Homo sapiens: one gene and its partners. The protein of the gene in region 2 interacts with the protein of the main gene of each other region in a pairwise test. Each region holds a gene or a part of one and is shown on either strand. Other genes may lie near its edges. The genes, in order: SH2D4A, STAM2, COL26A1 and ENTREP1.

The links.
Region 1: the proteins of STAM2 (region 2) and SH2D4A interact in binary tests that used the Homo sapiens proteins (3 or more experiments, as listed by UniProt).
Region 3: the proteins of STAM2 (region 2) and COL26A1 interact in binary tests that used the Homo sapiens proteins (3 or more experiments, as listed by UniProt).
Region 4: the proteins of STAM2 (region 2) and ENTREP1 interact in a two-hybrid assay, tested with the Homo sapiens proteins (2 studies listed by BioGRID and IntAct).

The regions. Positions count from the first base shown.
Region 1 is NC_000008.11:19,330,324-19,337,706, forward strand, and holds part of SH2D4A (SH2 domain-containing protein 4A), read left to right. Parts: intron 1-2,631; coding exon 2,632-2,791; intron 2,792-4,362; coding exon 4,363-4,534; intron 4,535-7,383. UniProt on the Homo sapiens protein: Inhibits estrogen-induced cell proliferation by competing with PLCG for binding to ESR1, blocking the effect of estrogen on PLCG and repressing estrogen-induced proliferation. May play a role in T-cell development and function.
Region 2 is NC_000002.12:152,123,407-152,130,789, forward strand, and holds part of STAM2 (signal transducing adapter molecule 2), read right to left. Parts: intron 2,974-7,383; coding exon 2,820-2,973; intron 530-2,819; coding exon 360-529; intron 1-359.
Region 3 is NC_000007.14:101,533,816-101,541,198, forward strand, and holds part of COL26A1 (collagen alpha-1(XXVI) chain isoform 1 precursor), read left to right. Parts: intron 1-6,077; coding exon 6,078-6,234; intron 6,235-7,383.
Region 4 is NC_000009.12:69,327,957-69,335,339, forward strand, and holds part of ENTREP1 (endosomal transmembrane epsin interactor 1), read left to right. Parts: intron 1-1,368; exon of another isoform or gene 1,369-1,743; intron 1,744-5,624; exon of another isoform or gene 5,625-6,205; intron 6,206-7,383. UniProt on the Homo sapiens protein: Functions as an activator of the E3 ubiquitin protein ligase ITCH in the ubiquitination of the CXCL12-activated CXCR4 receptor. Thereby, triggers CXCR4 endocytosis and desensitization, negatively regulating the CXCL12/CXCR4 signaling pathway.

The DNA of each region.
Region 1 (7,383 bases), on a different chromosome or scaffold from region 2:
AGAGCTCTTAGAGGTGAAAAGTCAGCAGAGAGACCATTGTCAGTGCCACTCTGTCAAGAGCCCGTTTTTCAGCATCTCACTAACTCTGACATTTCCCATCTCATTCTCTTTCTTCTTGCCAAGAGCCACTGCTTCTTTATGGTCACTGTGTTCTCTCTGTTACCTCCTTTAAAGCTTTCTTGACTCTGCTCCTCTCCTTTGCTCTCTTCTCTGTGTTTAGCTTTGAAGCCCCAACTGCTCACATGCAGTCCTAGGATTTCTCTCCCCACCTGCAGCAATGCCCCTTTTCCCTAAGAGTTCCTGCCCTGCCCGTAGCCCCTGGAGGCTGTTCTGGAGCTGTTCTGGGCTGTCCTAGCTGAGGTGCTGGAATCCCTCTGCTCTTCCTTTTTCTTCCCCTGGCACAGTGCCACTTGCCATCTTTCTGGGCATCTTCCTCTTGCTGTCAAAAAAAAAATACCGACAGAGAACTACTTAGGTGAAGGCTGAGAGGCTGACATAAAAAAAATATTATTAGTTGGCCTGAGAGAGTGTAATAAAGGGAGTTTTATGAGGTATGACAGCTTTCTAAAGTTAACAAACCATCTGGCATTATGTCAAACAGACAAAGAGCTTGCCAGGAGCTGGCACTGGTGCCCAGCCCCATTTGGGCATGGTGGGATTGACCTTCCCCTCCTTACCTGGAGGCCACATTTGCTGTTTCTCCACAGTGAAAACAGTAAATGGGAATTCTTTGGTAGTGCAGAGTCTGAGTCTGTTCCCTCTGCCCAGCGTCTCTGTTTAGAACATACTGCAGGAGTGTCCACTGTACCAAGAAGGGTAGAAAGGGTCAAAAGAAAGCACGAGCCTGGCTTTGAGCAGCCTGCTTTGGTAATGTATCCCAAGGCCACAGTACAAAAGTCAAGAATACGTTGGACAGAAGACACCTTAATTGGAAACCTCCTTTGACTTAGTGTGAGAGGACAAGACACAATCCCAGTGTGGATGTTTTGCTCATCAAACAGGGCCCAGCACACACACCAGCCAGGTGCCCTCTTCCATGCAGTCAGCACCACTGCTAGTTTGGGGTCTTGACTAGAGGTCCACCTTTGGCCCACAGTTGCCCTGGGTAGGCCTGACAGACTCAGGGATGGTCTCTGTTGGCCTCTCCTAGGTACGCTCCACCTGCCCCCGGTTTAAGGGAGCATGACCGATGTGGCCGCATTTCAGGAGCACTAGGATATAATCTAACCTGGAGGCCAATTGTAAACAAGGGTTATTTAAGTAGCTTCACCAAGTATCATACTACCTGGTTATATTATCTTCTCACAGGCTGGTGTGAATCTCTGAGGCAGCCATATAAGTAAATAATAGGCTAGCAATGATAGCAGTTAACCTCTATTGAACTCCTGTTATGTGGCAGGCACTAGGGGAAGAACTTGGCACAGGTAGCCTGCCTGCCCACAGCAACCCTAGGTAGTAAATATTGGTATTCCCATTTTGCAGATGAGGAAATTGAGTCTAAAGAGTTTAAGAAAGTTGTCCAAGTCACATAGCTCGTAAGTGACAGGGCTAGGATTTGAACTCAAGGTGGTCTAAATCTAAAATACCTCCTTATCTGAGGCAAGAGGATTGCTTGAAGCCAGAAGTTTGAGACCAGCCTGGGCAACAAAGCAAAGCCCTGTCTCTACAAAAAATTTTAAAAATTAGCTGGGCATGGTAATGCATGCCTGCATTCCTAACTACTATGAGCTCACCACTGCACTCCAGCCTGAGTGACAGAGCAAGACACCATTTCTAAAATAAAATAATAAATACAAATAAAATACAATATAAATAAAATAATAAAACCTGCTTTTTACCCACCTATGAAGCCTGTGAATGTAGTACAAATGCCACACCCTTGAGCAGCTGTGGAATTCTGGGTTACAGGGAGATAGTTAGATGTAAGAATTTATGGTGTGAAGTGCTAGCTCTGTTACCCTAAAGGATAATGCAAACAATGAATGCTTGCTTCCCATTTCAGTTTCTTCATTTATAAAATAGGCACATGCAGCCAGGCGCAGTGACTCACACCTGTAATCCCAGCACTTTGGCAGGCTGAGGTGGGTGGATCACGAGGTCAGGAGTTCAAGACCAGCCTGGCCAAGATGGTGAAATCCTGTCTCTACTAAAAATACAAAAATTAGCTGGTCGTGGTGGCAGATGCCTGTAATGGTGAAACCCTGTCTCTACTAAAAATACAAAAATTAGCTGGGCATGGTGGCAGGTGCCTGTAATCCCAGCTACTTGGGAGGCTGAGGTGGGGAACGGCTTGAACCCAGAGGCGGAGGTTGCAGTGAGCCAAGATCATGCCACTGCACTCCAGCCTGGGCAACAGTGTGAGACTGTCAAAAAAAAAAAAAAAAAAAAAAGCACGGGCAAAAAACATACCCCTAATATTTTTAAAACAAATATTTTCACTGAAGCTGCCTCTCACTGCCACCACTGCCATTGCTACCTACAGATGTTCCTGAGCAGTTGGAAGTTCTTTGTCTCATCTGATATATATATATATATTTTCAAAGACCCAAAATACTTTAGTGATGGAAACAGTAATCTGTGACTAAAGATATTTGTTCAATCTGAATTTTTTGTTTGTGTGTTTGTTTGCAGAGAATGGCAAATCGGTTCATTGGAAACTTGGAGCTGATAAGGAAGTCTGGGTATGGGTGATGGGCGAACACCATCTAGATAAACCCTATGATGTGCTCTGTAATGAAATTATTGCTGAGAGGGCCCGGCTGAAAGCAGAACAGGAGGCAGAAGAGCCCAGGTATGAGATCTGCAAACCAACCAGAGACTTAAAGACTCTCCAGACTTTAGAAAACATTGCAAACACACCTCTTGCTCACAGTATCAGGTGGGAGAGTAGGGTTGGGTTGGAGGGTCACAAAAGTCACTTTGGATCTCTTTGGAAGGTTGATTTAGACTTTTGGTCTAAAGACCTTTTGGATCTCTTTAGAAGGTTGATTTAGACTTTTGATCTAAAGTCTTTGATAGCACTAAAGACCTCATGAAAATCTTTAGTGCTGTCAAATCAGCTGCTTCATCTCCCTGCTTGTCATTCCAGTTTTGATCTGTATGAGTGTATGAGTTCCCCAGTGATCACCCGTGGCTGCACTAGAGTCATGTTAGAGCAATGCAGGCCGACGCAGCTGAGTATCAGGAACATATGTGAGAAATGCAGTGACTGTGCAAGCTTCAGGCCTTCCAAGGAGATCACTTAGATACAGGCGGCTGGATAATCAGGCTCTTTAGGTGCCTACCCAGTGCAAGGTACTGGGAATTCAAAGAGAAACAGGGAGCTTCCAGTCTAGGAGGAGAAGTAGACATATGCACAGCTCACTGCGGCCAGTGCAGGCTGTGATTTGTGCTATAATTAAGGTACAAACAGAAAGTTTACCAAGCATAGGTGGGAACCTATCATTCTGATCCACAGACGAGGTGAAATCTGAACCAAACCTTGAAAGGAGTGGTTTTCCAGCTACAGAAGGCCAGGAAGGAAAGTGCAGGCAGAGGGCTTAACCAAGATCCCTAGACTTGACTACGGATGGTTCTTTGGGGAATGATGAGGTCTTCTGAGCATTTGGAATACACTTGGACAACTGCTTCAGAGGCCAGATTTAGGAGTTTGGAACTTATTCTCTGGACGGTGAGGTTTTTCAATAGGGAAGTGACATCAACTGCAGATGTAGGAAGGTAACTCGGAGGGAAACTGAGGCAGGTGATGGCGCTCCTCTGCTGGGTACCTGGGGTGCTCTGGGTGTCCTCCTCTGGCTCTGGGCAGTGATGTTGACAGCCTTACCCTGAGGTGGTGAAGTGGAAATTGGGACAGACATGAGGACCACCGTTCAGTTCCCAAGGGCTAGGGATGCAAAGCAGACTCTGTGGCACAGTGGATGGTGCATTGGACTTTCAAGGGCTGGGATGCTGCCCACTAGTGCCTGTAACTTTAAAACTATCCATGGACATATGAAGATAAAGGAATTATTTAATCATCGATTGGAAGCAGACGGTGTGGTTCTAATAGGTTAACTTCTAAACCAGGAGTTGAGCAGACCAGGGTTCAGATCTTGGCTGTACCACTATGTGGTCTTGGATGAATTACAAAATTTCTTGGAGCTCTTATAACAAAGTGAGGATGACAATGCCTTCCTCACAGGGTTGTGATGAGGATGAAGTTAACGTCTTTACACACCTAGCAAAGGGCCCAGCATGTTAGAAGCACTCAGTAAGTGGTGTCAGTTACTGTTTTTCACATAATTTGAATGTCGACATATGCTTTGGAAAGGCTCTTCCTGTTGAAGAATGTTTTTTGAGAATTTCACTTTTGCCTCTCTTCAGAAAAACTCACTCTGAAGAATTCACCAATAGCTTGAAAACAAAATCACAGTACCATGATCTGCAGGCTCCGGATAACCAGCAGACTAAAGACATCTGGAAGAAAGTGGCAGAAAAGGAGGAACTGGAGCAAGGATCGAGGCCAGCACCAACCCTGGAAGAAGAGAAAATCCGAGTGAGTCCTTACTGTCTGTAGACGTGCGGAATTTCATCATGGGGGAGAAAAAGCTATTGAGGCCACAGAGACTACTGTGGCTGAGTGTCAGGATCCTCCAGTGGCTTTCTTGGGAGAAATGCCTCCTAACTTTAAGATCCTCCAGGGCAGGCACGGTGGCTCATGCCTGTAATCCCAGCACTTTGGGAGGCCAAGGCGGGCGGATCACGAGGTCAGGAGATCGAGACCATCCTGGCTAACACGGTGAAACCCCGTGTCTACTAAAAATACAAAAAAAAAAATTAGCTGGGCGTGGTGGCGGGCGCCTGCAGTCCCAGCTACTCGGGAGGCTGAGGCAGGAGAACGGCGTGAACCTGGGAGGTGGAGCTTGCAGTGAGCCGAGATTGCGACACTGCACTCCAGCACTCCAGCCTGGGCGACAGAGCGAGACTCCATCTCAAAAAAAAAAAGATCCTCTTGCTCATGTCACTTGGGGGATTTACCTTCCATGCTACATCATGGAAAATAAAGCACCCCTATTTCATGAGACTGAAAGTAACAAGAACGCTAGGAATGCAATTTGGCATTTTAAGATATTTTCAGGTTCTCCTCAATGCTGCCCCATTATATGTCTTCTGTTACAGCAGAGGTTGGCAAACATTTTCTGTAAAGTGCAACATAGTAAATGGTTTAGGCTTTATGGGCCATGCCATCTTTGTCACAGCTATACACAAATGAATGAGCATGGCTGTGTTCCAATAAAACTTTATTTTCAAGCACAGGCTGAGGGGCAGATTTGGCCTGTTCATGATTTAGATTACATTCTACTGAGTCTTAGCCTTTTTGTTGCGGATTCTAAACATCAGTGCCTGTTGGGCTTCATTGGCTCTGCCTGTGACTTGGGGACAGTTACCTCCCCAACATAATAGAAATTTTATACTCAGAATTGGTATGAATTCTCTTATGGTTCAGATGGTTTAAAAAACTCAAACATAATTTGCTGGTTGGATTATAGTTTGGGAGAACAATGAAACACCTTATTATTCTACCAGGAATTTAATTACACTGAGAATTAACAGGGATTTGCAGTTGTTTGATTTCCATTTATGTCTCCAGCCCTGCAGCACTGGCTGTGTGTGCTTTTGACTTCTTTGAGGCTATCATATGGGAATACAGGTATCTCCTGCCTCCTCCTAGGACCTAGTGAGACTCTGATAACTAACATGGTCAGGGGTTATTCCACAGCAAAGCACACTGCTGAGTGTCTCATGTAATCCTCACAATAACATGAACTAGAGACATTTGTCCATTTTACAGCTGGGGAAACTGAGGCTAGGTGTGGTTAAGCAACCTGCCCAAGGTCTTATTCAAACCCAGGTCTGCAGGACCCCCAGGCTATTCCTTAAATATTAACTACTAACTCCTTAATTCTTAACTCTCATGTTTGGTTGTGTCATTAATATGAGGGCTATGAAGAAGCTTTTTATGAAGGGCTACAAATATGAGGCTCAAAATATTTAGGAAGAGAAAATTCTAAATTTGGTTTTTCATCTCAAGGTCAGCCCTGGACATGCTCCCCACATCCTCATTGAGGCCTCCCGTCCTCCCCAGGTGTGCTTTGCACTCAGCATGTGTAACACTAAACTCCCCCAACACGGCTCCCCTTCCCACACCCCTCCAACCAAGAACAACAGTAATAACAAGAAAGCTCCTTCCAGAGTATTAATTATGCAGCTGAGTGTGTTTGCTCACACTTGTAATCTCAGTGCTTTTGGAGGCCGAGGCAGGAGGATCCCTTTTGAGGCCAGGAGTTCCAGACAAGCCTGGGCATAATCCTGCAGAGACAGTGAGACCCCCATCTCTACAAAAAATTAAAAAAAAACAGCCAAGCATGGTGGTGCATGCCTGTAGTCCTAGCAACTCAGGAGGCTGAGGCAGGAGGATCGATTGAGCCCAGGAATTTGAGGCTGCAGTGAGTCCTGATTACACCACTGTACTGTAGCCTGGGGGACCAAGTGAGACCCTAAGTCTTAAAAAAAAGTATTAAGTATGTATGCTTATATTTGTGCTTGAATTACAGTACTTTTTTAGACCTTTTTTTTTCAAAAGTAGGACAAAAGATTAAAATGGAAATTAAAATAGATACCACAGTTATTATTCTTTAACCATCTCATAAATATTATATTGAGAGTGGCACTGTTGCCTTCCTTAGGTGCCTGCTAAACTGACATATGGAAAGAGATGGGGGCAGGGGAGAAAGAAATATTCAGATAGAAGGAATATGGAAATAGATGGGTGACAGGTTTTTATATTCCTGCTTTTTATCTTTCCCTGTGTCAGAGAAGATGCTGTCAGGGGCTCCTGTGGTATTTGCTGAAGTTCACTCTGACAGCAGGCCACACAGCGAGGAGCCTGATTTCACAGCTAGTGTGAGCCTTTAAAGAGGTCGTCTGCTACCTCTCAGACAACTGACTCGATGGTACATTTATATTTTTATTGTAAGTTGTGTATATGTCACTATAGTGGTCTGAATATTTATCCCCCGAAATTTATGTCCACCTAGAACCTCAGAATGTGAGCTTATTTGGAAATAGATCTTTGCAGATGTAATTAAAGTAAAGGATCTCAAGATGAGATCACCCTGGATTTAGGGTGGATCCTAAATCCCAAGACAAGTGTCCTTATAAGAGGAGAGCCAAGGAAAATGTGAGAGAGAGTGTACTAGTCTGTTTTCATGCTGCTGATAAAGACATACCCAAGATTGGGCAGTTTACAAAACAAAGAGGTTTAATGGACTTACAGTTCCATGTAGCTGGGGAGGCCTCACAATCACTGTGGAAGGTGAAAGGCACGTCTAACATGGCAGCAGA
Region 2 (7,383 bases):
CCACAGTTCAAACGCCCTTCTTAAGGGTCAAAGTAACAACAGTTTTCTAATTTTTAGGAGTGCATGCAGATAAATAAGTCTGGGACTACTTCACAGGCTGATTATAGCACAGTGCTAAGCACATCATGGGCTTAGTCTCATAAAGGACAATTAGCTTTTGCCCCAAGGATGCAGACTGTAAGCTTAAGGGCGGGCAATAATCTCAGTATGGGTAGCAAAGCTAAGGTAACACCATTCCACTTCACAGGATTATGAATAAACAGTTCTGTAACTTCATCTTAATAAGGGTCTATATATTCTCATTCTGAAAATCTAGGAAAATTAACACATATAAAATTAACACAGCTCCCAAAACTTACCTTAAATATGAAGTTTGAGCAGGCTGTGCTGTCACTGAGGAATTCACATTTGGAGGCAGAGATCTCAGTGGACCAATTTGATCGGGTCCTAGGCTATAGCTTTGGGCAACAGTTACTTGGTGAATGCTCTGACCCATATAGTTTCCACCATGTGATTGAACTGGATATGTCTATTAATCAGAAAGAAAAAGTTGATTCACTCATCTCCCAAACATGTGCCTAATAATATATTTAAAATGTTAAAAGACTTAAAGGAAAGAAACTATACTTCTTTGGGAAGCAATCTGATTCTACCAATCTATCCATCTTAGAACTAAAAGTGGAGAGCTGTCAAATCACAGTGCCAAATCTATGGAAATTTGATTTGTTTGGCTGTTCTTTTATTTTTACAGAGAGCTGGGAGAAAGACAGGTGGTGTACTTTTAAGTAGTGGATTGCAATCTATCCAGGTTGCCTATTACTCAGTAAAGATGTCTTGCTGTAGAGCCACAGAAAACTATACACTCCCTTGAAGGGAAGCCCACCATCACTTAAAGTCACTATAAGAATGATAACCTTCTTTACCCTCATCCCTGGATGACTCATCCAACTCCTTCCTAAGAAAGAAACTTGAGAGAAAAAGCTGAAAAAGAAATGGTATAAGGGTGCCAGGGCTTCCCTGGCAATGTCTACCTTATTCTCTACCTTTAAGACAAACAGGACAAAAGTAAAGAAGAGTTATGGGCAAAAGACATGTATCCTCAGGAAACAGCAAAAATGGTTTAGGTCTCTTTGGACATTTATATGTGCCCTACTTATTTTCAGGACAACAGCTCCTTAAGGACAGGGTCTACCACCTGTCTACTAAATATAGCATCAAAACAATGCATACATTTAATATCATATCATACCATAATGATCATCAATCCAGTTTTAAATTAAGCTATTTTTAAAGTAAATACCATTCATCTGAAAATTTAGAATGCTAGAAATGCCAAATAAGCTATATTAAGTACAATCACATTACCTCCTTAGTAGACATGTAACAATCTACTGACAATAGGCTGAGACTGTGAGAATCAGCGTCTTCTGCAGTTTAGGGTTCCTGAGTAGCCTACACAATATAACTAATGTGTTACCCCAACTGCTTCTAGTAGAGATATATTTTTGTCAAATTAGAATAGAAACTTTTGAATATTTCAAATGCTCTTGAGTGAACAGTGTAGGTACAGATTACGTGAGGAATCAAACAGAAAGTTAACTTTTTAGAGACATGAGTTGTGCTTGGCAAAACGCAGTAAGTAGAATGCAACTAAACACCAAAACCTGACACAGAATGGCAAATAACCCTTTACAGACACACAAAAAAGCAAACATAAAGTTTTATCATACAATGATGCAGACACTGCTGTTTTGTTCCACTTTCACAGCAGCAGCGAACAACTCTGAAAACAGAAGCAAACTGAATAAATCCCAAAGGTCTTTTGCAGCCAGAAAAATCTTTCCTACCCTCCTAATTTTCAAAAAGATCAAGGCATGGCATATTTGATAAATGTATCTTGTCTGACGTGACAGTTACCATAGTGACTATTCTTTTTTTACTTAACAATTATGTTGTGTCAAGTCATCTAAATTATGCACCCACATTCTACCCTTTCTCCTTGGTGTCTCCTTCACATGCACCTTTACATACCAGTTTTCATAAATTAACATGAATTTTGCTCATCCAAGCTCATTCTGAATTCAATTGGCTAATTGGCTGAAATTTCAAAAAACGCTTCCGAATGGGGATACTGACAAATGTAAGTATTCGCTTCACATGGCAAGCACACAAAAAAGGTGAAAAGTACTGGAAAAAGATGGCTTATGGATGTTCATGGATGGCTTACGGAGTCTGTACCTCCTAGACATGTATCATATCTTTGCTATGCACAGATTTTTAACAATGTAAGTCATGCAGCTAAGTAAAGGAAGTATAAAGCATACTCTAGAAGTTCATTGTGCCTGTTAATAATCATGTAAGTCAAATAAATCTTTATGGAAATTTGTAAAGAAATGTTAAATCTTGTTGAGCAGCAGGAAAGCGTTAGTACCTCACCTGGGGAACTTCTGATATGTCAGGTATTGTCCTAAATCAAAAGATTTATACTCCATATTTACAAAAAGGATTTATGTTTACATAAAAGATTTATGCTTTATACTTACAAAAGCATATGAAGAACCAGAACTACCCTCACATATTTAATGGTCTTTTCATCCATGTTAAAACTGAACTAAAATGTATTTGTGAAATATCAGTATCTGTCTAATTTGCTCTGGTGAATGTTAATTGTTTAGCCAATATTTACTGAAACAATCAAAGATAAATTTTATAATTTTATTCACAGACAAAAGAAATCTTAATACTATGCTATAAAACATTTTCTTTTACTTTTAAAAGTTGTTTATAATTTAGAAAATGTTCTCAAAAAACATGCTCACCTGCATTGGAACCCCAGATGATGCAGGTGGGTAATGTGCTGGAGGGTGGAGCTTTGAATAGACTGAGTACACTGGTGCTTCATTCACCAATTTGTTATATAGTTCCAGAGCTTCCAGGACTTTAACATTCAATTCAGACAATTCTGAATGCTTCCTGATGTAGAAGAAAAGTATTATAATACTCTTCTAGTTTTTAGCATGTATTTAGTAATATAAATTATTTTTTTAATTTAGCACAATTTCTATTAATATATTAAAAGGCTTTTTTATATTTAATGAAAGAATATTCACAAAGGGAAACTAAGAGGAAGAACTGCTTAATCCTTGTAATAGCTAGGCTGATATTGAGGCAGGAGAATAGGGTCTGGAGGCAGGGAATCTAAGGCTGATTTTCAAGCTGACTTCTTATAACTAAATTGAAAGGAAAACCAACCCTAACTTTCCACACCTAAGTAACAAAAGGACCAGAGGCTACTTCCTTTGCAAACCCCCCACGTTTTCTGTGCAGCAGATGGGAAATTGGGTGTCCGAAAAAAATCAGACTGATTACAGGTCCAGTCTCCATTTGCAACTTTGTAACTTCAGCCTCTGAATGGTTGCTGTCCACAACCAATCAGACTGACTGTGGGCGGAGTCTTCATTTGCAAAGAAATATAACTTTGTAACTTCACCCTAGCCTCTGATTGGTTGCTTTTTGCAACCAATCAGATGTTTGCACAGCAGTGTTACCTTTGTAACTTCATTTCAGCCTCTGGTTGGCTGCTTTCTGCAACCAATCAGACTGATTGTGAGCTTCCACTTCATTTACATGAGGTGAGCACGAAAAGGCCAATGGGAAACTTCTAGGGGGTACTTGGACCCAAGAAGATTCTGTATCCTGGCCCTTGAGCTGCTGCTCAGGCCCACTCCCACACTGTGGGGTGTACTTTCATTTTCAATAAAACCCTGCTTTTGTTCTTTTGTTGCTTCCATCTTTCTTTGCTTTGCTGGGCATTTTGTCCAATTCTTTGTTCAAAATGCTAAGAACATGGACAACTTGCAGTCACAATCCTCTACTGGTGACAATATGACTTTATAATATTAGGGAAAAGTCCTTCCACACCTCATAAAATGCAATCAATTCATAATTTCGGTGCTGAGAGAATTTACTTTCACACATTCTAGGTTTTTTGTTGAGAATTCAATTATTAAAAAGAAAATTCTCAATTTGGGTAAGAATCTGGGCCTTAATTAAAAATCTCAATAAAAGAAAGTACCCAGGCAAGGCTCAGAACCTCTATGAAGTACAATATGATGGAAATTTAAAAACACTTGTTAAAAAAAAACCACACACACACATTTTCATTTGTTTATATCCATGAAAGTGTCAACTGAAAAAAAAAAAACCTACTTAAATAATTATCCTTGAAAATCCAAGTAAAAACAATGTGTAAGTAAGACTAATCTCTACAGCTCATTTGTTGGTTGGTTGATTTTGAGAAAGTAAACCAATGCTTTATTATGTAATAACAACAAACCCAAATAAAAGCATCTTCAAATTTGCCCAAGAAGCTTCAGAGCAAACTCTTTCTACTTGATAGTTCCCCTGGGAGTAATAAAGAACTCTCTTTGCACTGTCAAATTTACAAAAGCTAAGCAACCACTTTTCATCTGGCCTGAAACATCCACAAGCCTTTTTACTGAATGTGGTTCTTTCTACATAAACACAGAGAGGCAACAAGCAGAGGCACACAGACAGACACAGGACTACCAAGTAAATAGCCTGGACTGAGTCCTATCAAGATTTGTCACTTTTCCTCTACTAGAGTCTGTTATGTCTGAACTACAACAACGAAAAGTCTTCTCTCTCTGGTAAGAATGACTGCATTAAGCAGGTCAAACTCTATTATCAAAAATATCAGGCCGGGCGCGGTGGCTTATGCCTGTAATCCCAGCACTTTGGGAGGCCGAGGCAGGCAGATCACGAGGTCAGGAGATCGAGACCATCCTGGCTAACACGGTGAAACCCCGTCTCTACTAAAAATACAAAACATTAGCCAGGTGTGGTGGCGGGCACCTGTAGTCCCAGCTACACGGGAGGCTGAGGCTGAGGGAAGAGAATGGTGTGAACCCAGGAGGCGGAGGTTACAGTGAGCCGAGATTGCACCACTGCACTCCAGCCTGGGCAACAGAGCGAGACTCTGTCTCAAATTAAAAAAAAAAAAAATCAGTTACAAGTCACCCAGAAAGCTACAGAAATTAGTGCCATGCTAACAAATGCATAACTAAAATGTAACCGTAGGAATTTGATCCACAAAACCCAGCATGCTGATGAAACACCAGGAAAATGCAGTAGAAAGACATGATCACTGTGTTTGAAATCCCCTTAAAGATTTGAGACACAATCCCAGAGTAATAAGGCAAAAGAGCAACTTGATCAGGTGGTAGAAAATTACCTTTGGAGGACAGGAGGAAATAAGATTAGAATAGTCTGGAACATAGTTAAGTCCAGACTATGAATCTCTCTTCAACAAATCTACCTAAACTTTTATGGAGTCAATTTACATGTTTACTCAATATAATTTCTTAGGCTGATAAAATGCTACAAAATTTCATTCTGTACAATGACAAAAATGAAATGTACAATTTAACTTTCTAACAGTAGAGATGTTTTTCTTAGTAGGAATAACAAACATGATCCATTCAAGGGAAAAAAGGATATTTTATTCATCTTTGAATACTTGACAAGGGTAAATAATAGTCAATAAGAATTTGTTGAAGAACAGGAAACATTTCCCAGAACAGGAGCTGCATCTGCAGCTGTGGCCATAGAACAAGAAAAAATGCCAGTTGGCCTATTCAAAAACTGAAACTGGTAAGAAAAATGGTTAATGGTTGAGTTCTCACTCAAAAAATTAACTAATATCAGAATGGTCACTTTGATTTTTTTTTCTTTTGAGAGCAGATCTCACTGTGTCACCCAGACTGGAGTACAGTGGTGCAACCGTGGCTCACTGCAGCCTCCTTGACCTCCCAGGCTCAAGTGATCTTCCCACCTCAGCTTCTTGAGGAGCTGGGACTACAGGCGCACACCACCAAGCCCAGCTAATCATTAAAAAATTTTTTTGTAGAGATGGGGTCTCACTGTATTACCCAAGTTGGTCTCAAATTCCTGGGCTCAGATGATTCTCCCACTTCAGCCTCCTGAAATGCTGGGATTATAGGTGTGAGCCCCCACACTGGCCTCAATCTGACTTCTAATTCTTCTAGATCTTTTCCTTTAACAAAATTCTTTTTATGAACCAAAAATAAGATTAAATTGTCATAGTTTCTGCCTTTTTTCATTATATAATATCTGCTCATATCAAGGGATAATTATCAAGGACAATGATTTCCATTGTAGAATGTGTGGACATACACTCAGCCCTCCATGTCCATGGGTTCTGCATCCGTGCACTCAACCAACTTCAAATTGAAAATACAAAAAATTAAAAAAAATTGTGTCTGAACTAAACATACAGCCACATCTATCATAATACTTTTTAATCTTTTCCAGTTTGATTATTCACTGAACATTAACATGCTGCATTGAAACAAAGTAGATGTGTAACGAGATATTTAATGCTTTCTCTAAAATATGGCAAAACTACTGTTAATTGCCACACAGATTTTTCATTTCTTTAGAAAACACAACAAATTTATTTTTAAAATGTCCCCTGGAACAAAGACGACAATCTCTGGTGACTAGGAAAAGTCCTGCTGCTACTGCACTTCTCTGGCAGAGGCAGAAAAGAAGTAGTTTATATTCTCCTTCTTATTTTGGTCCTATCTAATCTTTTCTTCTTGTGCTGCTTATATATTAATTCAATAAATACCACTAGAAAGGGATGATGATGGAATACTAAGCCCTATCCCTTGTTTTCCTTTCACTACAGGTTCTCCCTATGACTTCAGATAGAGAGCTGAGAAATAAGGGAGCAGAACCAAGTTAAAAGCTCAAAACCCTGAAAGTCTACCCCCTTCAGTGTTGCTCCTATTTTATTTTTATTTATTTATTTATTTTTTGAGACCGTGTCTTGCTCTTTTGCCCAGGCTGGAGTGCAGTGGCGAGATCTCGGCTCACTGCAAGCTCCGCCTCCTGGGTTAACGCCATTCTCCTGCCTCAGCCTCCCGAGTAGCTGGGACTACAGGCCACCACCACCACGCCCGGCTAATTTTTTGTATTTTTAGTAGAGACGGGGTTTCACCATGTTAGCCAGGATGGTCTCGATCTCCTGACCTCATGATCCACCCGCCTCGGCCTCCCAAAGTGCTGGGATTACAGGCTTGAGCCACTGCGCCTGGCCGCTCCTATTTTTAAAGGACAATAAGGGACAGGCACAGTGGCTCATGCCTATAATCCCAGCACTTTGGGAAGCTGAGGCAGGAAGATCACTTGAGGCCAAGAGTTTGAGACCAGCCTGGGCAGCACAGCAAGACCCTGTCTTTAAAAAAAAAAAAAGCTGGGCATAAGGCTGGGTGCAGTGGCTCACACCTGTAATCCCAACACTTTGGGAGGCTGAGGTGAGCGGATCACGAGGTCAGG
Region 3 (7,383 bases), on a different chromosome or scaffold from region 2:
GCATCTCTCCTGCTCCTCACTGGGTAACACTTACCCGAGGGTACCTCTGTCTCAGCAGGCTCATGCCAGCTCCTGTGGCTGGAGAAAGCCCTTGGCAGAGTTGCAGGTGGCCACAGGCAAAAGCCAAAGCCAGGTGGGGCTGAAGGGTGCGTGTGGGGCGCCAACAGTGTCTGCCCCGATGGGGACAAGCCCCGTTCTCACCCAGAGGGCTTGGTAAGCAGGCTCTGGTGTTTAGCCAGAGGGGCTCGACCTGAGGGAGGACAGGTCTGGAGGGATGAGGCAGCCTCCAAATATCTACAAAGCCTCTTGGGACAGCAGGGTTGGCTGCACTGCCTGGCCCCCCAGGGGAGAGCCAGCACCAGGAGGCTGGAATCACCTGAGCCTGAGGCAGAGCTCTCTCCGGGGAAGAACTGTGGTGACCAGAGCACGTGGCATTGTCCAGAGAGAGTGTGTGAACAGGGCCACGTGGCAGGGAGGACCAGGGACCTGAGACGGTGGGGCTGGAGCCCCAGGCAGCAAGAACCCCTAGAAGAGAGCAGGGCCAGGGTCAGCCATGCCTCCACCCAGAAGAGCACACATACACACGCATGCATACCCACATAATACATGTGCACACACATGCACACATAGGCACCTGTGCACACACATCTGTGTGCATGTGGAGACACACATACATATATACACATACAGACACACACATTTGCACATGTGCACACAGACACATGCACACACACAAAAACAGGGACACACATATGTAATACCCATGGTCACATGCACGGATACTCAGGCATACATACACACACACACAAGCATGCATGTCAATGGGCACACATACATATACACACACACACACACACACACATGACACAACTGTGCACACATTAACACACACAGCCCTTGACAACTCCACATTACCCTTGGCCCTGACTTCCGCCCTGGGGGTTGCAGGTGAGTGTGGCTTGGAGTCAGACATTTGTGGGACCACCACCCGCCAGCTGGGTGACTCTCTCAGAGCCCCCTTCCTCATCTGTAGAATGGATCAGAGCATCAGCCCTGCAGGGCTGTTGAGAGCCTCCAGGGAGATGGCAGTGGGAACCGGCTTTGGAAATGGTCTAATGCTGACCAGGAGTCAAGGATTAGTGCTGTCACCCACGCCAGCCACGTCACTGTTCCCGCCTTACAGATATGAACACAGGTGTGCGGGAGACATCTGTGCAGAGCAATGACGGGGAGCCCCACGGCATGCATTCGCGGCTTCCCTTGTCCTCCAGCCCTTCCATGGGCGGGCAGGGTCTCCCAGCAGCCCAGGCCCCTGGGCACAGGCCTGGGATGGGAGAGACCCAGCTGCTCTCCTTGGAGTCTTAGCTCTTGTGGGGCAGGATTGGAGGGCTCCAGGGAGCAAATGTTTCCACATGGGCTGAGCCGGGGCCAGGACCCCCTAGAATGAGTATAGGGGAAGATGTTGAGCCGGTAAGCTTCTGGCACCTGAGATTTTAGAAAAGGCAGGGTCCCCGAGCCATGCCCAGCCTGATGGACATTTTCCTAGTACCGGAAGCCTCTGTGTGGTTTGGCACAGAGCAGCAGCCCTGGCCTCAGCCCAGTATTGTGGGTGTTAAAAGTCGCAGCTCTAGGGTAGGATGGCCACATTGCCAGCTGTCCCCCACCCACCTGGCCCACATCCTCCCATCATGAGCAATTCCTCCCTGTGGTCTTCCCGGCCCTGACACCCTCTCCACCAAGGGCCCCAGCTCCATGGCCTCCAGCAGCAGGCCCGGGGCAGAGCTTTGTCCTGTGACCCTGAGTGAGAGGACTGTGTCCTCTCTGTGTGCCTCGAGGGCTGGAGGGAGGGACAGCAGTGCGTGGGAGGAGCCCAGGCCAAGATTCCCACCCTTCCTCCACTCCATCTTGGCCAGCCCTTCCCTCTGGATCTCAGTCGGATGGCCTGGAAAATGGAAATTGGAGTCACTTCGTTTTGAGGCTGGTCCAGAGTGGGGAAGCTCAGGCAGCTCTCGAGTGGGGAGCTGGGGTTGGTAGCTTGGGCCTGGAGTGTGCAGAGATGGGGTAGCTCTGCAGCCCCCGTCCTTTTGACAGTTGTCTGCATTTCTAAGTAGGGGCTGGGAGACTCCTATCTTAGCTCCCCCGTCTTGTCTGGAGCACCTTCTGGCCGCCCACCTGCCCACTCCATGCCCACGTATGTTGAGAGGGCCTCTAGGAGGTTTTTTTAGACAAGGTCTCGTGCTATCTCAGTGTGGTGGCGTGATCTCAGCTCACTGCAACCTCTGCCTCCTGGGACAGGTTCAAGTGATTCTCCCGCCTCAGCCTCCTGAGTAGTTGGGATTACAGGTGTGATCCACCACATCCGGCTAATTTTTGTATTTTTAGTAGAGACGGGGTTTCCCTATGTTGGCCAGGCTGGTCTCAAACTCCTGACCTCAAGTGATCTGCTCGCCTTGGCCTCCCAGTGTTGGGACTACAGGCATGAGCCACTGTGCCTGGCCCCACTGGCAGCTTTGATGGCCCAGATCAGAGGGCCCTGAGAGGCAGCGGCCTGGAGAGGGGAAGGGAACACCAGCTGGGCTAGTTGCCAAGACAGCCCAGCGGCACCAGAGGCCATGCCGAGGTCAGGCGAGTCTGCAGGAGCCAGGACACGGAGCTGGGTTTTCAGCTTAGATCAGAGGCTAGGGGTCAGCCAGGGCAGAGGCTGGGATCCTAGCAGGGTGAAGGCAGAGCCAGGACAGGAGCCAGGCAGGCAGATCCCAGACAGGGAAGCAGAAATCAGATGGCTTGCATAAAACAGCAGCAACCCAGAGCCTGGACACTGGGGCTTCTGCTCCCTTAGACAAGAAGTCTGCTTTGGTATGTCGGGAAGGAGGCAAATGAGAGAAACCTGGCCAATGGTAGCTTATTCCATAAGGACATTTATTGTTTATTCCACAAGAAGTCCAGGAGCAGAGGTGGTCTCGGGATTGGTTTGGTGTCCAAAGAAGCCAGGCTCTTCGCTGACTTCTTAGTGAGCTGGTTGATGCCTCATGATTATAAAGTGGCTGCTGCAGCTCCAGGCATCACATCCTCACCTTGTATGTAAAGGCAGGAAGTGGAGGGTGAGGTGAAGCACCCAAACAGACTCCTTACGTTTCATGAGCCTGTGCTGGGGCAATGTGACCACCTCCTGGTTGCAAGGGAGCTGGGAAACTGAGTACCTGGCCAAACAGAAAGGGATGGCTCTGCCTGGCTCAGGCTGGTCCTGATTCCTTTCCTGGGTCACATGTACAGAGTCACAAGAGGGAGTTCTGGGGCAAGAGAAGAAGGGGCATTGGGGGCCAGGCAACCCACAGAGTCTGCTCCATCTGCTCTCCCACTGGTGCAGACCTAGAAGCTGGTCCAGGATTTCTGCCACCCTCTATTCCTGGGACAGGCTGGCAGGCAGAAGGCCAGCAGGGTACCGGGGAAGATTCCTGCTTGCCCTCCCCTCTCCTGCCCCGGGCTTTACTCTCTGACCTCATGGACCACAAACAGTACACAAGAGTCACAGAAGCCTCAGAGTCCCAGCAGTCTCTGGTGCAGAGGGCAGTGTCCCGGCTAGTCTGCCAGGCCACAATGACATCATCAGGGCCACTGCCCCCGAAGGCCGTGGCCTGGTTTTCTTGGCCCCACGCCCATGGCTGCCCACCCGGGTGAGCTCATGCCTGGACAGAAATGGGATCAGTTTCTCCAGGTCAGACACAGCCAGGCCAGGAGGGCTGAGACGCTGGCAGGGGCAGATTCCAACCAGGGCTCCTCTGCCCAGGTCTGCAGGCTCTGTGGGCAGGGGTGTCCCAGTGGGAGGTGCCCCATGAAGGAGAGAGCTAGGCCTTTTGTACTGGCTGGCAGGTCACTTCGGGGGAAGCCAGAGCTTTGCCCAGAATGGGGAACACTAGAGGTTGCCTGTAGGAGGCCAAGGCGGGACCCCTCCCCAGATCTCTCCAGGCTTCACCCTGCTCCCTCCTCCTCCACCCTAGCCTCCCCACACCATCCCTGCCTCCTCTCATGGTCCTCTACCTCCACTTCCCAGCCCTTGGGACCACCCCCTGTTAAATATGGCCATCTGAGTTCCCCTTGGGATACTGCAACCCACCCCCGCCAACTTATCACCTTCACTCCCAAGCCTGCCCCTCTCCCGTGCCCTTGTTCGACTGGGGGCATTTCTACTATTCCCAGCAGCCAGGCCTGAAAGGGGAGACACACTCCAACCTTCACCCCACCTCCTGCCCCCAGCCCCAGGAGCACCAGGGCCTGACGCTCCTCCAAATCCCCTGCGCTGGCCATCCCAGGCCCCTTCCATCACGTGACCTGACAGCCACCGTCTTCTTGCTCCTCTCCAGAGCCCCTAAACTTGGCTGTGGCCCGTCAGCTTCTTCAGGGGTGCCAGTGGCTGGGGCAGGAATCGGAACCCTTCTCTCCTCCTGGAGATTCAGGAGAACGGGGTCCACCCTTCACTGCCGTGTGATCTGAGCCAGCTGTCCCCGCTCTCTGTGCCTCCACGAAGCTCAGCCGGGGTTGAGACAGAACTGTTGGGAGGATAAACTGTGGTTTGGTGGATGAGGCACCACTAGGGGCCCCGGCCTCACCGCCCATTTGCTGGGTGATCTCAGGCAAGTCACTTGCAGTCTCTGAGCCTCTGTCTCCACCTCATTTGTGATGTCGCCGCAGTGACCCTCCCAGTTTCATGGACCCTTCTAAGGACCAGAAAGGGGAGGGGCTGAAAGAATTGGCTCTGGGGGGTTAAGGGGCCCTGGGCCAGGCATCCAGGCCATCGGAGGACTGTGTCCCATAGAGGGGTGGAGGGGGAGCCCGTTCTGCAGCCCACAGCAGGGCCTGAGCCCAGGGGGCCCAGCCAGAACCCTGGGTGCAGGGTCAGAGCCCTGAGCAGCCGCTAAGTGCACCCTGGAGACACCCCTGCTGGGGAGGAGCCCAGAGCAGGCCACTTTGTCCCCAGGGATCCCAGGACTGTCCCCCAGGCCCAGGGGCACTGCAGAACTGGTGAGGGAGCTACTCAGGCAGACCATCTGCCTGTGCACCATGGACTCTCAGCTCAGCCCAGCAGGTCCTTCACGCCCCTCGGCCCCAGGACCCACCCAAGTTCCCAGCAGGGATCTCCACCCACCCTGAGCCTATTTCTGGCACACAGCGCCCCCTGCTGGCCTCTTCGGGGGCAGCAGAGACTCACGGGGCCTCTGAGTCCTGGCTCTCAAGTTGTTTAAAGGAAGGAGAAAGTCTCCCGGTCCCGGGATCTGGGTCTCAGCCACCTTTGACTCCTGCCTCCCTCAAGGAGGGACAGATGGGGCCGCATTGCAGGCTGGTCCCAAGCAATCGTGGCCACTTTTGTTTTTCTGGAAAGTCTTCTAAAGGTCATGTGCCACAAGGGGCCTATTTATACCCACCCTTTCACTCTCCTCCCTCCCTTTCTTCCCTTCCTTTTCTGTCTGTGTGTGTGTGTGTATGTGTGTGTGTGTGTGTGTGTGTGTGCGTATGTGTGTGTGCTTTTTTTTTCTCTCTCTCTCTTTTTGTAGATGTGGTCTCGATCTGTCACCCAGGCTGGAGCGCAGTGGCACAATCATAACTCACTGTAGCCTTGAACTCCTGGGCTCAGCCTCCTGAGTAACTGGGACTGCAGGCGTGTGCCACCACGCCTGGCTAATTTTCTTTATTTTTTGTAGAGATGGGGGTCTCACTGTGTTGCCCAGGCTGGTCTCAAACTCCTGGCCTCAAGTGATCCTCCAGCCTCAGCCTCTTAAAGTGCTGGGATTACAGGCATGAGCCACCACTCCCAGCCAGCACAGGGACTTTGACGGTGTCTGAAGGGCACTCCTTGAACCTGAGGGTCCAGAAAGACTTTCCTGATGTCAGAAGGAGGAGAGGGCTGGGATGGAGGGAACCTGGGCCACGAGTGAGGTTCTCCCACTAAGGAGCGTGACGGGGCACACACAGCGTGGACAGCTGCAGGTCTCATGGGGTGCACATGCATGTCCCTGTGTGTCACGCATGTCCCTATGTGTCAGGCCCAACTGGGACCTGACTCTCTATCTCCTTTGGCCCAGGTCCTCCTGCTAGAAGCAGCAGAACGGCCCTCCAGCCCGGACAACGACCTGCCAGCCCCCGAGAGCACTCCGCCGACCTGGAATGAGGACTTCCTCCCCGACGCCATCCCTCTTGCTCACCCTGTGCCACGACAGAGAAGGCCCACGGGCCCAGCCGGTGAGTGAGGGCTGCAGAGAGGACAGGCTGGGGCAGCCGAAGGGACCTTGGGCATGGCCTCCCAGGGCCTCCCTAGAGAGGCCACACACTAGACACTCTAGTTCCAACATGCCATGTGGCATTTTGAAAAATTAAGCTAACAGTTGAAAATGGGTATTTCACCTAAAAGCCAGGATTTCTAGTTTCTCTTAAGAAGTAGACGATCTGGTCAGGTGCAGTGGCTCATGCCTGTAATCCCAACACTTTGGGAGGCCGAGAAGGGTGGATCATTTGAGGTCAGGAGTTCGAGACCAGCCTGGCCAACATGGTGAAACCCTGTCTCTACTAAAAATACAAAAATTAGCCAGGCGTGGAGGCAGGTGCCTGTAATCCCAGCTACTCAGGAGGCTGAGGCAGGAGAATCGCTTGAACCCGGAAGGCGGAGGTTGCAGTGAGCCGAGATCACGCCACTGCACTCCAGCCTGGGGGACAAGAGCAAAATTCCGTCTAAAAAAAAAAAAAAAAAAGTAGACCATCTGGCCGAGCATAGTGGCTCACTCATGCTTGTAATCCTAGCACTTTGGAAGGTCAAGGCAGGTGGATCATTTGAGGTCAGGAGTTCGAGACCAACCTGGGCAACATGGTAAAACCCCCATTTCTACTGAAAATACAAAAATTAGCCCAGCATGATTAATCCCAGCTACTCCTAAGGCTGAGGCATGAGAATTGCTTGAGCTGGGGAGGTGGAGGCTGTAGTGAGCCAAGATCATGCCACTGCAATCCAGCCTGGAAGACGGGGTGAAACCCTGTCTCAAAAAAATAGATGATCTTGGGCAGGTGCAGTGGCTCACACCTATAATCCCAGCACTTTGGAAGGCTGAGGTGGGAGGATTGCATGAAGCCAGGAGCTCAAGACCAGCCTGGGCAACATAGTGAGACCCTGTCTCTACAAAAAATTATAAAAATAAAAATGAGAAAATTGGCCATCAGGGCTGGCAGTCCCTCATGGAAACAACCAGCTACTGGGTTGCCACTGTAGGTCCAGTCCAGGCTGTGCAGTTTGCCGCAGTCCCCACCATTCCCTATTGTCTTACAGCTCAGCTACTGTCTTCAGTATCTGCCCTGCTCCTTGGCTTCTGCACTTATGGCCCCCAGCCCAGCCTTGCTGGG
Region 4 (7,383 bases), on a different chromosome or scaffold from region 2:
AGGCACCATGACTCTCTTGGTGCTTTAGGGGAAAAAAGCCTTGTATCACATGTTTTGAATTTATGCATGTGACAGAGGTTGTTTTTTAAAAACCTCGTGTTATGGAAAAGTTTACATTTATGCAGTATACGATGAACCCACATATACCTTTCACCCAGCTTCAACAATGGTTTCATCTGCACCCCCTTCCTGGGCTCTGCTGCTGGCCTTGTGTCTTCTGATAAACTTCAGAAGGATGAATATTCCAAGCAGGGTGGGAATTAGATCCTTCGTGCTCCCTAGTCCATTTGTGAGATTAAATTCTCTTATTGTTTGGAAGCAAATCTCAGGTGTCACATTTCATCTGTATATATTCCAATGTGTGTATTTTTATCACAAGAAAATATAACCAGCATAGGATTGAGTGGGCAGTCCGAAGAACCATTCCCTTCAATTTTAAATCTTTTATTATAAAAATTTAAAAACTCAACAAATGTAGAAAGAAGGGTGTAATGATCCCGCATTTTACCCTTCACCCAGTAGCTATCAACACATGGCCACTTTATACCTAACGCTGCTCCCCCTTCCTAACACCCCTGGATTATTTTAAGGCAAATTCCAGGTATCACAACTTCAGCCATTAGTATTTTAGTATGTACTTATAAAAGAAATGGGCTTGATAGGACATTGTAACTAATTCAAAGACAGCTAAACTAAGGTTTCTATAAAAAAAAAAGTTGGAAGATTATGAGTTGAGAACTGCAGAATTAAAAAAGAACACAGCTTTGACATATATTCACATGCCATACAACTTACCCATTTAGCATTTAAAGTGTACTGGTCAATGGTTTTTAGTAAATTCACAGTTGTGCAACTATCACCACAATTTTAGAAAATGTTTATCAACCCTAAAGTTTTGAGTAGTTACTCCTCATTCTCCACCACCCCCACCCCTAGCCACCCACTGATTAACCCACTTTCAGTCTCTGTAGATATGTCTGTTCTGGATATTTCATATACAAGGGATCATATAATATGTGGTCTTTTATGATTGGTTTCTTTCACTTAGCATGTTTTCAAGCTTCATCCATGCTGCGGCAAGTCTCAGTACTTCATTCCTATTTTATTGTATGGATATGCCATGTTTATTTATTCACTCACAAGTTTTATTGGCATATGAAGCTAGGTAGTTGAATGGAAGTGCCAACTTATGTCTAAGGTTACTTCAAACCCACATAGGAACACAGTAGAAGAATATCCTCATATTTCAAGCTTTGACCATTAGGATCTTTAGCCTGCTATATCAACTGAACCCACACATCTTCTTTAGGCTTCACTGAAAATTTTGCTTGTGTATTTGATACAAAATTAGGTTCAAGAGACAAATATATTTATTTGAAATGACTATTTGTTGAACACAGTATAGTTCAAGGATATTTTTTCATATGTATTTCCTTAAGAGAGCCCTGAGCCTGAGATTTTGGAGGCTTCTTTCACTTGTTTGAACTTTGAAGGTATATTTTATCTATTTTAAAAAACACTTAAGAATTAACAAATTCTATAAAGCATCTTTTTTCATAGTTTTCATTCATACTTTCAGCAACTTGAAGGGAGAGTTTTTAACGTAGTCTGTGTTTTTGAGCACTCTGAGCATTTGATTTCTTCCTGGTATCACCGGTAAATCACTCAATATATTATTATTCCCAAAATTCGTGAAGCTAAGAGATGAGCCATCTTGAAAAACAACCTGGCATTTGACTGGAGGTGAGTGGCTAAGGGAGGATCTCAGTGTCTGTCTTCAGCTGTGCTGTCCTAGCTCTCGGTTTGGGGGGTGCGTTTAGTGTTAACTAGATTCCACTGGGGTGTGGGAGTTAACGAGATTCCACTGGGGTATGGGCGTTAATGTTAACTAGATTCCACTGGGGTATGGGAGTTAACTAGGTTCCACTGGGTTTAATTAGATTCCACTGGGGTATGGGAGTTAACTAGGTTCCACTGGGTTTAATTAGATTCCACTGGGGTATGGGAGTTAATGTTAACTAGATTCCACTGGGGTATGGGAGTTAACTAGGTTCCACTGGGTTTAATTAGATTCCACTGGGGTATGGGAGTTAATGTTAACTAGATTCCACTGGGGTATGGGAGTTAACTAGGTTCCACTGGGTTTAATTAGATTCCACTGGGGTATGGGAGTTAATGTTAACTAGATTCCACTGGGTAAGGGAGTTAGCTAGGTTCCACTGGGGTTAAGTAGATTCCACTGGGGTATGGGAGACTCAGTCGGCCACACTGCACTAGATTTAATGAAAGAGGAGAGAGAGTTGCATTGGGTTGTCTCTCCTCCTTCAGAAACAAAATTCCTACCTTTGATGACATGCATGATCCTTGGGAGATATTTCAGATGAGTGGTAGAGAATTGGTTGTTGTTTTTTACTCCTCTCTGAGTGCCCTATTATTCTTTATCAGTTGTATACATCTATGTCTGTGCTTTAAGTCACTGATCTAAATTCATGATCATCCTTTGAGTCCATGATTCTTTGGCAAGGTTCTACTTTCACGTAAAGAGACAGACATTGGTGAACTTTAGGGTGAACCTTTGTAAAAAAAATCGCAGTGAATAAACATAAAGAAAAATCAATGGACTAAACGAAAAACTAACATAAAGATTATGGTTACTACCAGTTAAATGATAGTAAATATTTTTTATCATACTAATCAAATACTACTTTAATATTTAAGGGATATTTAAACTATAATTTTGGGGATGAGTTTTATTGATTTCTTTGGTCCTTTATTTTGCATATCAGCAGAGTCACCTTTATAAGTTCTGTGCCTCTTGGCCTCAGTTACTCATCTGTCAAATGGGTGGGATGCTTCTTCTTCTTCAGTGCTGATTTTGTCAGGGTGTAGCTAGAGTATACATAGGAGAGTGCATCACTGCTGGACCCAAGCACCAGACCTGGAATACACGGGAACCTGTATCAATGGTTTTTAAATACCGAGGTAATAGTTAATCAAAGTAAAATGAACAGGCCAGTATTTTTGTAGGACATTATAGTTACCATCATGTTTTCATTAGAAATATTCAGTTGCCCACTTTCTCAATTTGTTTTTTTTAATGAGCTGTGCTAGACAGATAGGGAAGAAATACACACACATACACACACATTTTTTAAAAAGTTGCCATTGTAAGAGCTATAGGGCAGGGTAGGTTGTTGAGAAGTTTGACATATTATTTTCTGCTTATTTACAAAGTAACACAGGACATTTACAACATGGCTTTTTAAAAATCTCTGTGTTTACATACAGCAGCTTTTGATAAATGATTCAGAACATTTTTGCCCTAATACAAGTTAATGGATTAGCAAAGGGAAATAGGGCAGTAGAATTATAAGCTTCTGATCTTAACGATTTGGTTTTTACGTTGGAAAATGAAAGCACATTAACCATTTATGGTGGGTAACAATGACTCTTCCCTGGGGTATCTCAGAGCCCTTCTTTGCAGTCTCAGAAAAAAGGAAAGCCCTCTGCTTTTTCCTGTAAGCTACAAGAAATAGGTTATCAGTGAGTGAAACAAAAATTGTAATACCTCTCATAATAATATAGAGATTGTTTGGTGTTAGAAAATAGGTTCTTACCTGTTCATTCAGGGCAAGTTTCATCTTGCGCTGGATGGAAAGAATGCTGATGGAGTTGCTTTTTGTTGCTGCTGTACTCTTTTAGGAAGCACAGGGGATGAAAAGTGTGTTTAGTCTTACATAGTCATCTTTGAGCAATGTCATCTCCTGTTTCTGGCCTCCATTCATTCATTCACTCATTGACTCTTGCCATAACTAACTGAGTGCCTTCTGGGAACCTTTAGTGGTGTGTGAGTGAGTACGCACAGGTCCAAGCCCTCATCGTGATACAGTTAAACATTTGATAGCATTGTGGCATAATGGGAGCCATGGAAGGACATTGTTAAGGGACCTTCTTGGCTCATTTCTGATGGAGCTCCAGCTACTGCTGCCACCAAGGGAGGTGGAGGCATTGAATACTCTGTCTCCTTCTCTTCTTCTTTTCCCAACCCCTTTCCCCGTCTGTGAATTCTGCCTCCCTTTCAGATGAAATGGAAGCATCATTCCTTAAGTCTTGAGCTCTTAAAAAATTTATCCCCAACTGTAGCACCTCTGTTCCCATTACCATTCGAGAGGCTTCTAACCATCCAGGCCTACTTCCTCTATTTGCTTTTCTCCCCATCACCACTCACAGGGTTCCCCAAGTGCCTCAGGGCTTCACTGGGCTTGAAGAGAGGGAGAAGTTGAATAAAAGTAGGTGTGTGCCTTTGTTGCGGGGTTCAGGAATGAAGAGCTGCAACTATAGCTCCCGCCTGGAGCTGGAATATAGTTTCTTAAAACATTGTAAAGAGCGGTGGCTTACAAGAATCCTGGTGGGATTTAACTTGAATATGTGCTGAGTCTGTAAAACAATTTAAATGGAAATGACATTCTTAGTTTGTCTTCAATCCATAGACTTGGTATATGCCTTGACTGACTTGGCTATTCATTTAATATTGCGCAATAAACTTTGTATTTCTCCCCAGTGAGGCCTTAAAGATCTTTGTCATATACATTTTGAGATTATTGATGTTTCTCATTTGTCATGTATTTGTACATATATACATTTTGTACATATTTTTTAACTTACATTTTCTATAGTTTGTTGCTACCATATGCAAACAAAATACCTCCCCTCCAAAGGAAGAAATAAAGATAGCTTAGTTCTTTGGTTTCAGAGACACCTCATTTGAAATGACAGTTGACTCTGTCATGATCTATTAAAATAAAAAGAATAGAAATACCTTTCAACTTAGAAACTTCACTCCTGGGACTTTTTTCCGCTGAAATAAAAGCACTTGTTTTTAAAGATATATGTTCATAGATGTTTACTGCAGCATTGTTTGTGACAGCAAAAAACTAGACATAGAATGAATGCCCATTAATATGGAAATGATTGAATACGTTAAGTACAGCCACACGATGGAATGTTATGTAGTCACTAAAGTAAAATGAATTAGAGCTGTTCCAATGCACATGAAGAGATTTCTATGAAGTATTTATTGAGAGAGAAAAGGAAGAGGCAGGGAAAGTATATCTTTTATGATTTTTTTACAAAAATTACATCCCTGTGAGTGTGTATATATACACATAGACATGTGTGTGTAGTAAGAATTTAGAGAAAAATACATATATATGTAAAATATGTAAACGTGCTAGATTGTTAACATGGAGGAGGGTGGGGTGATGTGGCTGTGTAGGTGAGGGGGGCAGAACAGTTTAGGCATATTGCTATTTTATGGGCTTTTATGGCTGGGGCTGGACACTTCCTTTTAATAATATTATTATTTTTTTTTTGAGATGGACTCTGTCACCCAGGCTGGAGTGCAGTGGTGTGATCTTGGCTCACTGCACCCTCTACCTCCTGGGTTCAAGTGATTCTCCTGCCTCAGCCTCCCAAGCAGCTGGGATTATAGGTGTGTGCCACCAAACCCAGCTAATTTTTGTACTTTTAGTAGAGACAGGGTCTCACCGTGTTGGCCAGGCTGGTCTCAAACTCCTGACCTCAAGTATTCCGCCTGCCTTGGCCTCCCAAAGTGCTGGGATTACAGGTGTGAGCCACTGCGCCTGGCCAATAATATTGTTTTAATAGAAAAAATACATTCCAAAAAGCTGAACCGCAGGGTTCTCTATTAATGGAGACCAGTAGCATTAATGTCAAACGCTAACTAATAATTCAAATCATATTTTTTACTGAATTGGGAGATTTGTGTTTTCCTTAAGGGCAGTTGAATATGAAGTTATGTTTTCACAAGAACAGCTTGAATTTCCTCAGCTAAGTCCAGTAGGCACCGGAGTGGGCAGGTGGGATGCACATGCACAGAGGGATACACACATGCACACACATGTGCACACACATGCAAGCACATGCATACACACATACATGCACAAGCATACGTGCCTACACCCTGAGTCACAGATTTCTGAGGAATCACTGTCATCACTATAAGGTAAGTCTTTTGAGCTAGAAGAGACCAAGAGATGGTTTCCTTCCCTTACAGCATTTCTAAAGAAATAAGTGAGGACCAGACAAGTGAAATGACTTGGCCAAGGTCTCATAGTTAAGTCTTTAGAAGCTGAGTGGGAGCCTGGAACCCAGGACCTCATGGATTGCAGTCCCAATTTGTAAAGTAGGTACAACTCACACACTGTGAGTCACACACGCCCTGCCCTGTGTCTTCAGGCAGAAATTGTTTAGGGTAAGGAAATATCCTATTGGATTTAAAGGGATTGCAAGGTTAAAGTGCCTGGTGGGCAGGCAGCTAGTAGTACCTTTAAACATAGATGGCACACAAAGAAATTGTCACCTATCTGCCTGTATATGGTTTTTGATCCTTGATATAAGTGGGTAGACTTGTCCTATGCTGGTCTGATGCTGCAGAATGATTACTCTCAGCTAGTGAGAATGGAGAATATTGCAAGCAGGCCTGTGGGTTTTGAATTTGAAGGGACACTGTCAAGTCCTTACTGATCTGTAGTTGATAAACACTGATTGTGAAATGGTGCATTTGAGCAATTTGAACAAGTATAATGTGCTTGTAGAGGAAAACCTTCATGGCTGCCTTTGGCAGACACACTTTATTTTACAAAGCTCAGAGTGCTCAAATGGCATCAGCACATCCCAGGCTGAAAAATTACTTTGATTATCATTTCCCAATTGTTTATCAAACTGTGTTATCCAAAGGGCTGACCTTGGTTTCCAGTTTATGTTTTGGCAAAATAGTGGCCCTTTCCTTTCCTTTTCTTTTTTTTTTTTTTTTTTTGAGACAGAGTCTCATTCTATCGCCCAGGCTGGAGTGCAGTGGCGCGATCTCAGCTCACTGCAACCTCTGCCTCCTGGGTTCAGGCGACTCTTGTGCCTCAGCCTCCCAAGTAGCGTCACCATGCCCAGCTAATTTTTTGTATTTTAGTGGAGATGGGGTTTCACCATGTTGTCCAGGCTGGTCTCAAAGTCCTGGGCTCAGGCAGTCCACCTGCCTCGGCCTCCCAAAGTGCTGGGAGTAACAGGAGTGAGCCACCGCGCCCAGCCTGTTTTTTCTTATTGAGATTTTTTAGCTCGTTTTTTATTGAAGTGTCATTTTGCAACATGAGCTCCTTCTCACAGTAGTTCCTCCCACTTTGTGGAATAAATGCTCTAGAACATATATTAATTGCCAACAATTGGGGCACAATGCTGGGAACTAGGACTTTAGAGAGACAAGACAGGAGTTCACAGTTAGTAGGTAATTCAGAGACACATCCCTCAATTATTACAATAGAGTTTTTGGAAAAAAAGAAATGTGTGCAGAGGGCTTCCATGAGTGTGGAG